Linked DNA regions of Homo sapiens. The protein of the gene in region 1 purifies or fractionates together with the protein of each later gene. This does not show direct contact. Each region holds a gene or a part of one and is shown on either strand. Other genes may lie near its edges. The genes, in order: MAP3K10, MYO18B and ERC1.

Evidence for each region.
Region 2: the proteins of MAP3K10 (region 1) and MYO18B purify together in Homo sapiens (affinity purification with mass spectrometry; one large-scale study listed by BioGRID and IntAct). This does not show direct contact.
Region 3: the proteins of MAP3K10 (region 1) and ERC1 purify together in Homo sapiens (affinity purification with mass spectrometry; one large-scale study listed by BioGRID and IntAct). This does not show direct contact.

The regions. Positions count from the first base shown.
Region 1 is NC_000019.10:40,204,855-40,208,505, reverse strand, and holds part of MAP3K10 (mitogen-activated protein kinase kinase kinase 10), read right to left. Parts: intron 3,386-3,651; coding exon 3,210-3,385; intron 2,596-3,209; coding exon 2,349-2,595; intron 1-2,348. UniProt on the Homo sapiens protein: Activates the JUN N-terminal pathway.
Region 2 is NC_000022.11:25,843,066-25,846,716, forward strand, and holds part of MYO18B (unconventional myosin-XVIIIb), read left to right. Parts: intron 1-669; coding exon 670-829; intron 830-3,034; coding exon 3,035-3,218; intron 3,219-3,651. UniProt on the Homo sapiens protein: May be involved in intracellular trafficking of the muscle cell when in the cytoplasm, whereas entering the nucleus, may be involved in the regulation of muscle specific genes.
Region 3 is NC_000012.12:1,025,584-1,029,234, forward strand, and holds part of ERC1 (ELKS/Rab6-interacting/CAST family member 1), read left to right. Parts: intron 1-2,164; 5' UTR 2,165-2,320; coding exon 2,321-2,989; intron 2,990-3,651. UniProt on the Homo sapiens protein: Regulatory subunit of the IKK complex. Probably recruits IkappaBalpha/NFKBIA to the complex. May be involved in the organization of the cytomatrix at the nerve terminals active zone (CAZ) which regulates neurotransmitter release.

The DNA.
Region 1 (3,651 bases):
CAGGTATGGGGGCTGGGCGCGGTGGCTCATGTCTGTAATCCCAGCACTTTGGGAGGCCGAGGCAGGCGGATCACGAGGTCAGGAGATTGAGACCATCCTGGCTAACACGGTGAAACCCTGTCTCTACTAAAAATACAAAAAAAAAAAAAAAAAAAAAAAAGAAAGAAAGAGCCAGGCGTGGTGGCGGGTGCCTGTAGTCCCAGCTATTCAGGAGGCTGAGGCAGGAGAATGGCATGAACCTGGGAGGCAGAGCTTGCAGTGAGCCGAGATCATGCCACTGCACTCCAGCCTGGGTGACAGAGCGAGGCTCCATCTCAAAAAAAACAAAAACAAAAACAAAAAAACAAACAACAAAAAACAGGTACTCCATTTGGTTATTGGAAACATTTAAGCATGTTTGGAGCAACTTGGGTATGTATATGTACTTTTTCAACTCTAACTTTTATGAAATCTAAATACAGATCCAATATTTTTGATGGGTCAGGTACAGTAGCTCACACCTGTAATCCCAGCACTTTGGGAGGCCAAAGTGGGAGCGCTGCCTGAGCGCAGGAGTTCAAGACCACCCTGGGCAATATAGCAAGACCCCATCTCAGAAAAAAAAAAATTTTTAATGAAAATTTACTGTCCAAATTTAGATGTGCCATAAATATAAAATACATCTGGATTTCAAAGATTTAGTGTGAAAAAAGAAGGTAAAATATCTCACAATTATTTTGTATTGATTGCATGGATATATTGGGCTAAATTAAAAAATATATATATTTTTTGAGATGGAGTTTTGCTCTTGTCGCCCAGGCTGGAGTACAATGGCGCGATCTCGGCTCACTGCAACCTCTGCCTCCCAGGTTCAAGCGATTCTCCTGCCTCAGCCTCCTGAGTAGCTGGGATTACAGGCATGCGCCACCACGCCCGGCTAATTTTGTAGTTTTAGTAGAGATGGGGTTTCTCCATGTTGGTCAGGCTGGTCTCAAACTCCTGACCTCAGGTGATCTGCCCGTCTTAGCCCCAAAAAGTGCTGGGATTACAGACGTGAGCCACCCCACCTGGCCTAATAAAAAATATTAAAATTGACATCTCTTATTTCTTTTTGCTTTTATGTGTAGCTTACTAGAAAATTTAAAATTATACACGTGGCTTGTATTATATTTCCACTGGCCACTGCTGCTTAAGGCACTGCTTTCTGGCTTGTAACATCACAGAAAGAGACAAGTAGACACTACGTGCCTCCCTCCTGAATGCATTACCTGGGAAGCAGTGTGGGGAAAAAAAAAATCAAACCTGAATCTGAATCTGATTAAGTCTTGAGATCCAACTATTAGGTTGATCCATGTGAAACTTCTGTTTTTGTAGGTAAAAAAATGGTCAAATATCAGCATATATATGTATATCTTAATTATATATTTTGTGACAGAGTCTCACTCTGTCACCCAGGCTGGAGTGCAGTGGCACAATCTCGGCTCACTGCAACCTCTGCTTTCCGGGTTCAAGCGATGCTTGTGCCTCAGCCTCCCAAGTAACTGAGATTACAGGCGTGTGCACCACCACACCCAGCTAATTTTGTAGTTTTAGTAGAGGCGGGATTTCACCATGTTCTAGAGCCAGGCTGCTCTAGAACTCCTAGCCTCAAGTGATCTACGCACTTTGGCCTCCCAAAATGCTGGGATTACAGGCGTGAGCCACTGCACCTGGCCAGATTAAAAGATATTTTTAAAGAGAGATAACATGAAAAAGAAAGTTCAGAAGTGACTGTCCTAAGTGTCAAGACAGATGTTCCTCTCAGGGGATGGTGTGAGGTTGTCTGGAGGGGCAGGTAGAAAGCACTTGGGATGGCTGTGAGGTTCTCTCTGCTTTCATGGGGGTGACTAGAGTAACTCATTTGGCTGTACAGGTTTTTGGTCATTTTCTTTTTTTCTTCTTCTTCCCTTTAGAGATAGGGTCTTGCTCTGCTGCCCAGACTGGAGTGCAGTGGTGCAATTACAGCTCACTGCAGCCTCGAACTCCTGGACTCAAGTGATCCTCCCACCTCAGCCTCCCCACTAGCTTGGACTATAAGTGCATGCCAACGTGGCCAGCTAATTAAAAAAAATTTTTTTTTTTTTTGGTAAATATGGGGTCTATGTTGCCCAGGCTGGTCTCAAACTTCTGGCCTCAAGTGATCCTCCCACCTTGGCCTCCTGAGTAGGCTGGGACTACAAGTGCTCGCCACTGCACTGGGCTGATCACTGACTATGTGCGATATATTTAGCAATAAAAACAAGTTGAAAAAGAAAAGGAAGAGATAAATCCTAGGTCGGGGCTGCTCCCAGCAGCCTCTTGGGGGGCGCTCTGGGGACACGGGTGGGTACCAGAGGGCAGGCTGATGTGGCTGCCGCCTTCCCGCAGCTTGAGCAGGCGGCTGCGCTTGAAGTTGCCCTTGCGCTTGCGGACCCGGGGCTTCTCCTGGCTCAGCTGGCACATGAGCAGGTGCAGCTCCCGTTCCACGATGTCCATCTCACGTTCTGCCAGCTCCTGCTCCCGCCGCCGCAGCTGCTCCTCCTGGAAGCGCTGCTCCTGTGCCGCCCGCAGCAGCTCCTCCTCACGGCTCCGAAGCTCCTGGGAAGGAGAGGCGGTGGCTGGGGGGAGGGGCTTAGCTGCTCTGCTTCCTGGGGAGGGACCCAGGGCTGCTGCGTCTGGTTGGTGCCTCACACAAGGGTACCTTGCTGTGGGGTACACTGGTTTCACCACCCGACTCATGCTTTGCTAGCCAAGCTGGGTGCCAGGGCAGGGAACTGTGTTAGCTCAAAGAAAGGGGTGCTTTTTCTTTCTTTTTCTTTCTTAACTCTTCAATTTAGAAAACTTCAAACATCCACAAAAGCAGAGAACAGTGCACCCCCCTGTACCCATCATCCAATTTCAACAATTACCTATGCTTTGCGAATCTTGTATCCCCGTCCTTCTCTCCTCTTGCCCTCTCTTCGTTTCTGCTGTAGTATTTTAAAGCCAACCCCAGACATCATGCAGTGTCACCTGTAAGTACTTCAGTACAGGGTGCCTTTTTCTTATTAATCCACCAACAGGAGGCTGTCTTTTCTTAATATGCAAAAAAGGCTCCCTTGACCCTGCATGGACCCAAAGGCTGGGGTTCAGGGGAGGAGTCTCTGAGCAGCCCAAGGCATCAGAACTCAGGGGTCTTGCTCCATCTTTCCCACCTTGCCCCCTGCCTTCACCTTCTCCTTGGTCCGAAGGTCATCAAACATGTGCTGAATCTCCAGCTTCCAGTCTTCCTGCAGCGAGTGGAAGGACTCCAGTGGCATCTGGAACAGGGCTGACTGTTCGATGACTTCAAGCCGCTTCAAGATGCTACCGAAATCTGGCCGCCCGTGGGGGTCTGGGTCCCAGCATTCTGGGGTGGGAGGAGGAAGGACAGTGGTGGGGCATGGAGGTGTCAGTGGTCATGCTCTGGGGACTCAGCCTGCTCAGAGGAAGGCAGAATTTCTGGGGATGGCAGACAAACAGCTGCTATGGAGCTGAGGGGAAGGGATTCAAAGCCAAGCTCCTGGCCAATTCCACTCAGTGAAACGCTGGGAGAGAAACCCTGGGACCTGCACCCCGAGGAGGGGCTGGTAGTGGAATCAGGATCAAGGTGGAATCCCAGGGCCAAGGAATCCT
Region 2 (3,651 bases), on another chromosome or scaffold:
CATTTTACAGACGAGGAAACTGATGCTCAGAGACTTACGGGGCTTGGCACCTTTCACACAGTAATAAATGGTAAAGAACCTAGGATTTCTCTAGCCCCCAAGATCAGGCCCATTTTTTTCTCCCACCCTGTCTCTTGGAACCGATGTGCCTGTATCTCCCAAAAGTATTCCCTGTATTTATTTGGTTGATGGTATTCAAAATGATTTTACGCGGCATAAAACTAAATATTTTAAAAATATTTCATCATAATTTCCATGCATATCAGAAAATAAACATATCTTGCACATCAAATCGGCAATATGATGCTTCTTTTAAAATGAATGTACTGTACTTGTGAAAATGTAAGTCGATTTAAAGAAAACATCAAGTAAATCACAGTCCAGGTGATACGTGGTTATATATATAGAAAAACTCGAGGAGATCGAGTGTACGGATGATGTTTGGGAAAAACAGGTGTCCTAGATTTAAGAAAGCAAGAAAGAATAAAATCCACTTTGGAAATAATGTACACAAATTCACTACAGCAGGAGAAATGTGGGTGCCTTCGACCATGAGCGTTAGCTATCTGGAAACACGTTAAGATGGATACTGTGCGTTTAAGGGATGCCAGCTGATTGCAGAGTGTCCTCAACAGGCTCCAGCACTCATGCCACCATGTCTGTTTCCAGGGTCCTCTGCCCTGCGGACCTGTGAGCAGCCCCTCCAGTGTGAGATTTTCCACCAGTTGGGATGGGACCCTGTGCGGTACGACCTCACGGGCTGGCTCCACAGAGCCAAGCCCAACCTCTCGGCCCTGGATGCACCCCAGGTCCTGCACCAGTCAAAAAGGTGAGTTGGGTCAGGGTTGGGGACGGGGATGGAGCATTGGAGGCACTGTGTTTTCCTTCCCACCTAAACTAGGCAGTCACTACAACACAGTGTGGGAGGGCCAGCCCAGGAATCCCATCCCTCCATAATGGAGCAAAGAACCATAACTTGAATTGGAGCAGTGCAGTGTCTCCCTGGGGCCAGAGTGAATCCAGCTGAGGAGAAAAGCTGGCCTCCTGGGGAGGTGGAACAAAAGCTAAAAAGCTGTGACTTCTTATTTTGGCACTTTGCCTTTCATTAAGTATCTGAGAGATGATGTGACTGGAACAACTTTTATGGACATTCAAGAACTAGGGGTTCATAAAACTGAAATGATACGTTTTGTAGCGTTAAAAAAAAGCTCACCATGTTCCCTGGCTGCTCAGCCCAGAGTGCTGGCGTGAGGCCGGCAGCATTCTCTGCTTTTAGTTCAGAGGCTTATTGGAAAATGCTGTGTGTGTGTGTGTGCATGCACACTCCCAAGTTCAATGCTGGAATTCCTCAGGGGTAGAGCTTAGAGACAAGAAGAGAAACTGAGACGACCAGGGAGGTGCTGGTGTCTCAGATGGGCACCAGGATGAGAAAGAACCACTTACTCACTACTCCCTATGTGCCTTGGATCAGCATAAACGCTTTATGAGTATCTTCTGAATCCTTATCACAACACAAGATCCTTAGTCCCATTTTACACATGAGAAAAATTGAGGCCCCGAGCAGTGAAGTGGCTTGCCTTTGCTCACACAGCAGAACAGTGGCACAGCCAGGACCCAACTTGAGTCTAAGAGATGCTTGGAGAATTCCCAGAACATTATGTCAGAGCTGATTGGAAACCCACATCCAGGAGTGGGGCTCGTGAACATCCAGCTCCTGGAGAGAGATTCAGGCCAGGGCTGGGGCAACAGGAGTTGCGAGCACACAGAGGACTGAATGATGACCCAGGTGGCACAGGTTGAGTCTCAGCCCTGCCCTTTGTCACCTGAGTGACCGTGGGCAGTCGCTCTCCCTCATCTCGGTTGTTTCTGCTTCCTGTACCATAAATAAGAGCAGGACGATGCTACAAGACTCAGCGGCTGTAGCCCAGCTTTGGGGACAGGAAGATGTTCAGATTCCGTTTTTCCCTCTTTTAAGCTACATGACCTGGACCTCAGTTTCATAATCTGAGAAATGGGAATGAGGTTCCAAAGCTCCCATGTCTGATCTAAGAAGGCTTTGGTGACGTAAAGTAGCAGATGACCTATTAGAGAGCCCGGTTCGTAGTTGGCTCATGGAAGAGGGTAGGCCACTCTGCTTTACTGGAACAGACACTTGAAAAGCTGGCACCCTTGGCCGGGCGCGGTGGCTCACGCCTGTAATCCTGGCACTTTGGGAGGCCAAGGTGGGCAGATCACGAGGTCAAGAGATCGAGACCATCCTGGCCAACATGGTGAAACCCTGTCTCTACTAAAAACACAAAAATTAGCTGGGCCTGGTGGCGTGTGCCTATAGTCCCAGCTACTCGGGAGGCTGAAGCAGGAGAATCGCTTGAACCCGGGAGGCGGAGGTTGCAGTAAGCCGAGATTGCACCGCTGCACTCCAGCCTGGCGACAGAGCAAGACTCCATCTCAAAAAAACCAACAACAACAACAACAAAAACGAAAAGCTAGCATCCTGGCCACTAACCTCAGAATCTGTCCATGACAGGGATGCTGAGAGAAGGCACTGTCTGCTCAGGTATCAGGCTGGGTATTTATTTGACATTATCTTGCAGCTCCAGAAACTGTGTGCCCAGCCTGAGTCATTCCTTCTTGCATGAAACACATGGCACGTGCCTACTGTGTGCTAGGCCTGGTCTAGGAATAGCAGAGAGGACTTTGACCTCTAAGAGAGTACAGGTGTCGTAGCATTGCTGTAGGTATGTAAGTGACAAGAATATCCATAGGACAGATGCTCTAAGCCTAGGCAGGGAGGGAGCATTTGAAGGTAGAAGACGGGCATCAGGAAGGAGCTGGCATTTGCCATGAAGCAAAGCCTCACCTGGCAGGAGGGGCTGTGAATGAAGGGGAGCAGCTGGGACACATGACTGTAGAGGAGGCTTTAGGAAGCCGAGGAGCAGGAAGCAAGAAGGCTTGTTCCCTTTGCCACCACCCAGGCCAAGGCTTTCCCAAGAACCTCCTAAAGCTCCTCTCTCTTTTCCCTCCTCCCCACCAGAGAGGAGCTGCGGAGTCTATTCCAGGCCCGGGCCAAGCTGCCTCCTGTGTGCCGGGCTGTGGCAGGCCTGGAGGGCACCTCCCAGCAGGCCCTGCAGAGGAGCCGCATGGTGAGGAGGACCTTTGCCAGCAGCCTTGCCGCGGTGAGGAGGAAAGCCCCGTGCTCCCAGATCAAGCTGCAGATGGTGAGTGGGCACCCTGTCTCATGGTGTCCTGGCCTTCACTGCCTCCATCCTCATCTCCTCTGGGCTGAGTCATGTGCCTACATCATCTCTAACCTCCCCAGCAAGGCCAGAGGGGCGAGTGTCACCCCACGCTCCACAGAGGAGGAAATGGGGGCTCCCAGCAGCAATGAAACTTGGCCCTGGTCACACCCCCAGGAAGTGACTGATCCAAATCTGAGGCCTAAGCCTGTGCTGCTTGGTGTTGAGTTGAGAGGCCTGGGGGAGTTCCCAGAAGCTATGAATGCCCTCTTGACTCCAGTGACACATATGAGAGCCAGACTAGCCCTGTCTGCCTTGCTCACCACTAGGTTCCCCTGGGGCAAGGCGGCAGGACCCAGCTGGATGTAAATGTGGTACCTAGACCTGGAATGTGAATCCGTGAATAAATGAGAAC
Region 3 (3,651 bases), on another chromosome or scaffold:
TACTTTTAATGGCTTAAAAAATTTATATCTTTAATGTATATGGAATTTATTTTGGTGTACTATGTGAAGACGAGTATACGTTATGTTTCTCAAAGAGCAACAAGTATTTAAACTTCATTTATTGAGTGATTTTTCATTTCCTCACTGTATTAGTCTGTTCTCATGTTGCTAATACAGACATACCCGAGACTAGGTAATTTAAAAAGGAAAGTTTTTTTTTTTTTTTTTTTTTGAGACGGAGTCTCGCTCTTGTCACCCAGGCTGGAGTGCAGTGGCGCGATCTCGGCTCACTGCAATGTCTGCCGCCTGGGTTCAAGCTTCTTATGCCTCAGCCTCCTGAGTGGCTGGGATTACAGGCACCTGCCACCATGCTTGGTTAATTTTTGTACTTTTAGTGAGATTGGGTTTTGCCGTGTTGGTCAGGCTGGTCTCGAACTCTTGATGTCAGGTGATCCACCCGCCTTGGTCTCCCAAATTGCTGGAATTACAGATGTAAGCCACTGCACCCTGCCAGGAAAGAGGTTTAATGGACTCTCAGTTCCACATGGCTGGGGAGACCTCACAATCATGGCAGAAGGCGAATGAGGAGCAAAATTATGTCTTACATGGCGACAGGCAAGAGAACTTGTGCAGGGGAACTCCAATTTATAAAACTATCAGATCCCATGAGACGCACTCACTACCACCAGAACAGTAGAGGGGAAACTGCGCCCATGATTCAGTTAAGTACACCTGGCCCCACCCTTGATACATGAAGATGATTGCAATTCAAGGTGAGATTTGAGTGGGGACACAGCCAAACCATATCACTCACTGTTTGGAAACGTTACTTTTAACATATATTAAATTCCCATATATAATTTAGACCCTGTTCTTGGGCTAGTACTATACAGTTTTCGTTATTATAGTTTTACAAGGCTACAATACTTTGTAAGAAACCTTGCAGGTCAGATGTGGTTTTGTTGTCAGGAATTTTTTCCAGTAATACTTAGTGGACATTATGTAGTATCCAGTAATCACACACATTGTTTTCTTAATGAAATATATGAAGTCACACTATGTGGGATACATATAAACAGTAAGTAAGCTCAGATCAGGTCAAGGTTTGCTGCTAGATGAGTTAAAAGGAAAATCTTATTTTCAGAGGTTTTTGGATTTTTGCAGTACAAATGAAGAATTATGGATTTGTAATTTATGTTGCTGTTGAGGGCTGTCTTCCTTCCTTGTTCATCTATTTTAAATTGTTTGGTTACTCTTGTATCTTTACTCTCCATTTGAATTTTAGAGTCAGCTTGTTGAGTTACTTGAAAAATCCTTCAACACCTGTGAAAGGAAGGGATCTATAGCTGGTTAGCAAAATCCTGTAGAGATTTTTCACTGGGATTGTGCTAAGTAGTTGGGGAAGAACTAAATCTTAGCAGTGTTTGTCTTCTCATCCATGAACACAGATAACTTTGTTTAGGTGTTCTTTCATGTCTTTCAGTAAAATGTTATAGTTTTTTTCCCCCAAAATTCTTGCACATTTCTGTTGATTTACATCAAAGTACTTTTATGGTTTTGTTGCTGTTGTGAATGGGATTTAAAATTTCCTTTAAATTAAAAACTGCATTTTCTAGTTGTTACTACTGATGTATACATTGATACTTATATATTGATATTGAGTTTGACCAGTTTGTTGAGTTCTGTTATTCTAATAACTTGTCAGTTGATTATCTTGGGTTTTCAGTTAGCAAGTCAGATATTCAGACATTGAGTTTAATCTTTTCCTTGTCAATCTTTATACTTCTTGTTTTTTTTTCTTTTTCTTTTTTGTAGACAGGGTCTTGCTATGTATCCCAGGTTGGTCTTGAACTCCTGGCCTCAAGCGATCTTCCTACCTTGGCCTCCCAGAGCGCTGGGATTATAGGCATGAGCCATTGCACTTGGCACTTTTTTTGTTTGTTTTCCAGTTGCATGGTATGTTTTCAGCGTTCAGTTTTGAGACATCTAAAATATCTCTAAAATATTGTTTACTATGAGTACATTATGCTGTAATCACATTCTGAATGCGTGAGTACATACATGGTAGAAGGGCTAGATCTTCTTTAAGTGGGGGTAATGGAAAGTCTCTGAGAAGGGAAATATTTATTATTGGAGGATTTAATGTGTGATCTTTTCATTACAGATATGGTGTAAGATACTTCTTCAAGATTGGACAGCTGGGGACCTTCTTCTGATTAACCTTAAACCAACTTGTAGCCATAGAGACACCTCACAAGGTTCCCATTTTTGTTGTTGTTGTTGTTGATTTTCTGCTCACACCTTTCCTGACCTTGCAACCATGTATGGAAGTGCCCGCTCTGTTGGGAAGGTGGAGCCGAGCAGCCAGAGCCCTGGGCGTTCACCCAGGCTTCCACGTTCCCCTCGCTTGGGTCACCGTCGAACCAACAGTACGGGAGGGAGTTCGGGAAGCAGTGTTGGAGGTGGCAGTGGGAAAACCCTTTCAATGGAAAATATACAATCTTTAAATGCTGCCTATGCCACCTCTGGCCCTATGTATCTAAGTGACCATGAAAATGTGGGTTCAGAAACACCTAAAAGCACCATGACACTTGGCCGTTCTGGGGGACGTCTGCCTTACGGTGTTCGGATGACTGCTATGGGTAGTAGCCCCAATATAGCTAGCAGTGGGGTTGCTAGTGACACCATAGCATTTGGAGAGCATCACCTCCCTCCTGTGAGTATGGCATCCACTGTACCTCACTCCCTTCGTCAGGCGAGAGATAACACAATCATGGATCTGCAGACACAGCTGAAGGAAGTATTAAGAGAAAATGATCTCTTGCGGAAGGATGTGGAAGTAAAGGAGAGCAAATTGAGTTCTTCAATGAATAGCATCAAGACCTTCTGGAGCCCAGAGCTGAAGAAGGAACGAGCCCTGAGAAAAGATGAAGCTTCCAAAATCACCATTTGGAAGGAACAGTACAGAGTTGTACAGGAGGAAAACCAGGTAAGTTCTACGTGTGTTTACCTTTATTGGCTGAATTCATGTATATAAATGAAATAGCCTTTTTTTCCCCTTTCCTAGATTTTTCCCTTCGTAGTATATGTATCTTCCTTTTTCCTATTGATTTTACTGTTTTGTGTCCTCCATTTCTCAGCCCTTTCCAAATTTGGTCCTGTACCCTGTTTTCTTCTAGCTGCCCATGTCTCCTTGCTCCCATTCTTGCTTGGTTCTTTTCTCTGGTTTCTCTTTCTCTTCGTGTCTTTCCTTTCAGCATATGTTATCTTTTTTTTTTTTTTCCAATTCTTCTGAGAGTATAATTTTGCCACACTCTCTAATATCTATTACCAAATGTATTTTAGAGTAGGTAACTTAAATGTAAGGTATACCATTAAGATTTGTCATAATGTCAAAAAGTCATTCTTAAAAACAAAACAAAATGACTATCACAGGATAAGTCAGTGTTGTCAGCTGAGAACAGAAATTACTTTTAAAAAGTTAATGTTGGCCGGGTGCAATGGCTCACACCTGTAATCCCAGCACTTGGGAGGCCGAGGTGGGCGGATCATTGAGGTCAGGAGTTCGAGACCAGCCTGGCGACGTGGTGAAACCCTGACTCTACTAAAAATACAAAAATTAGCCAGGTGTGATGGCGTGTGCCTGTAATC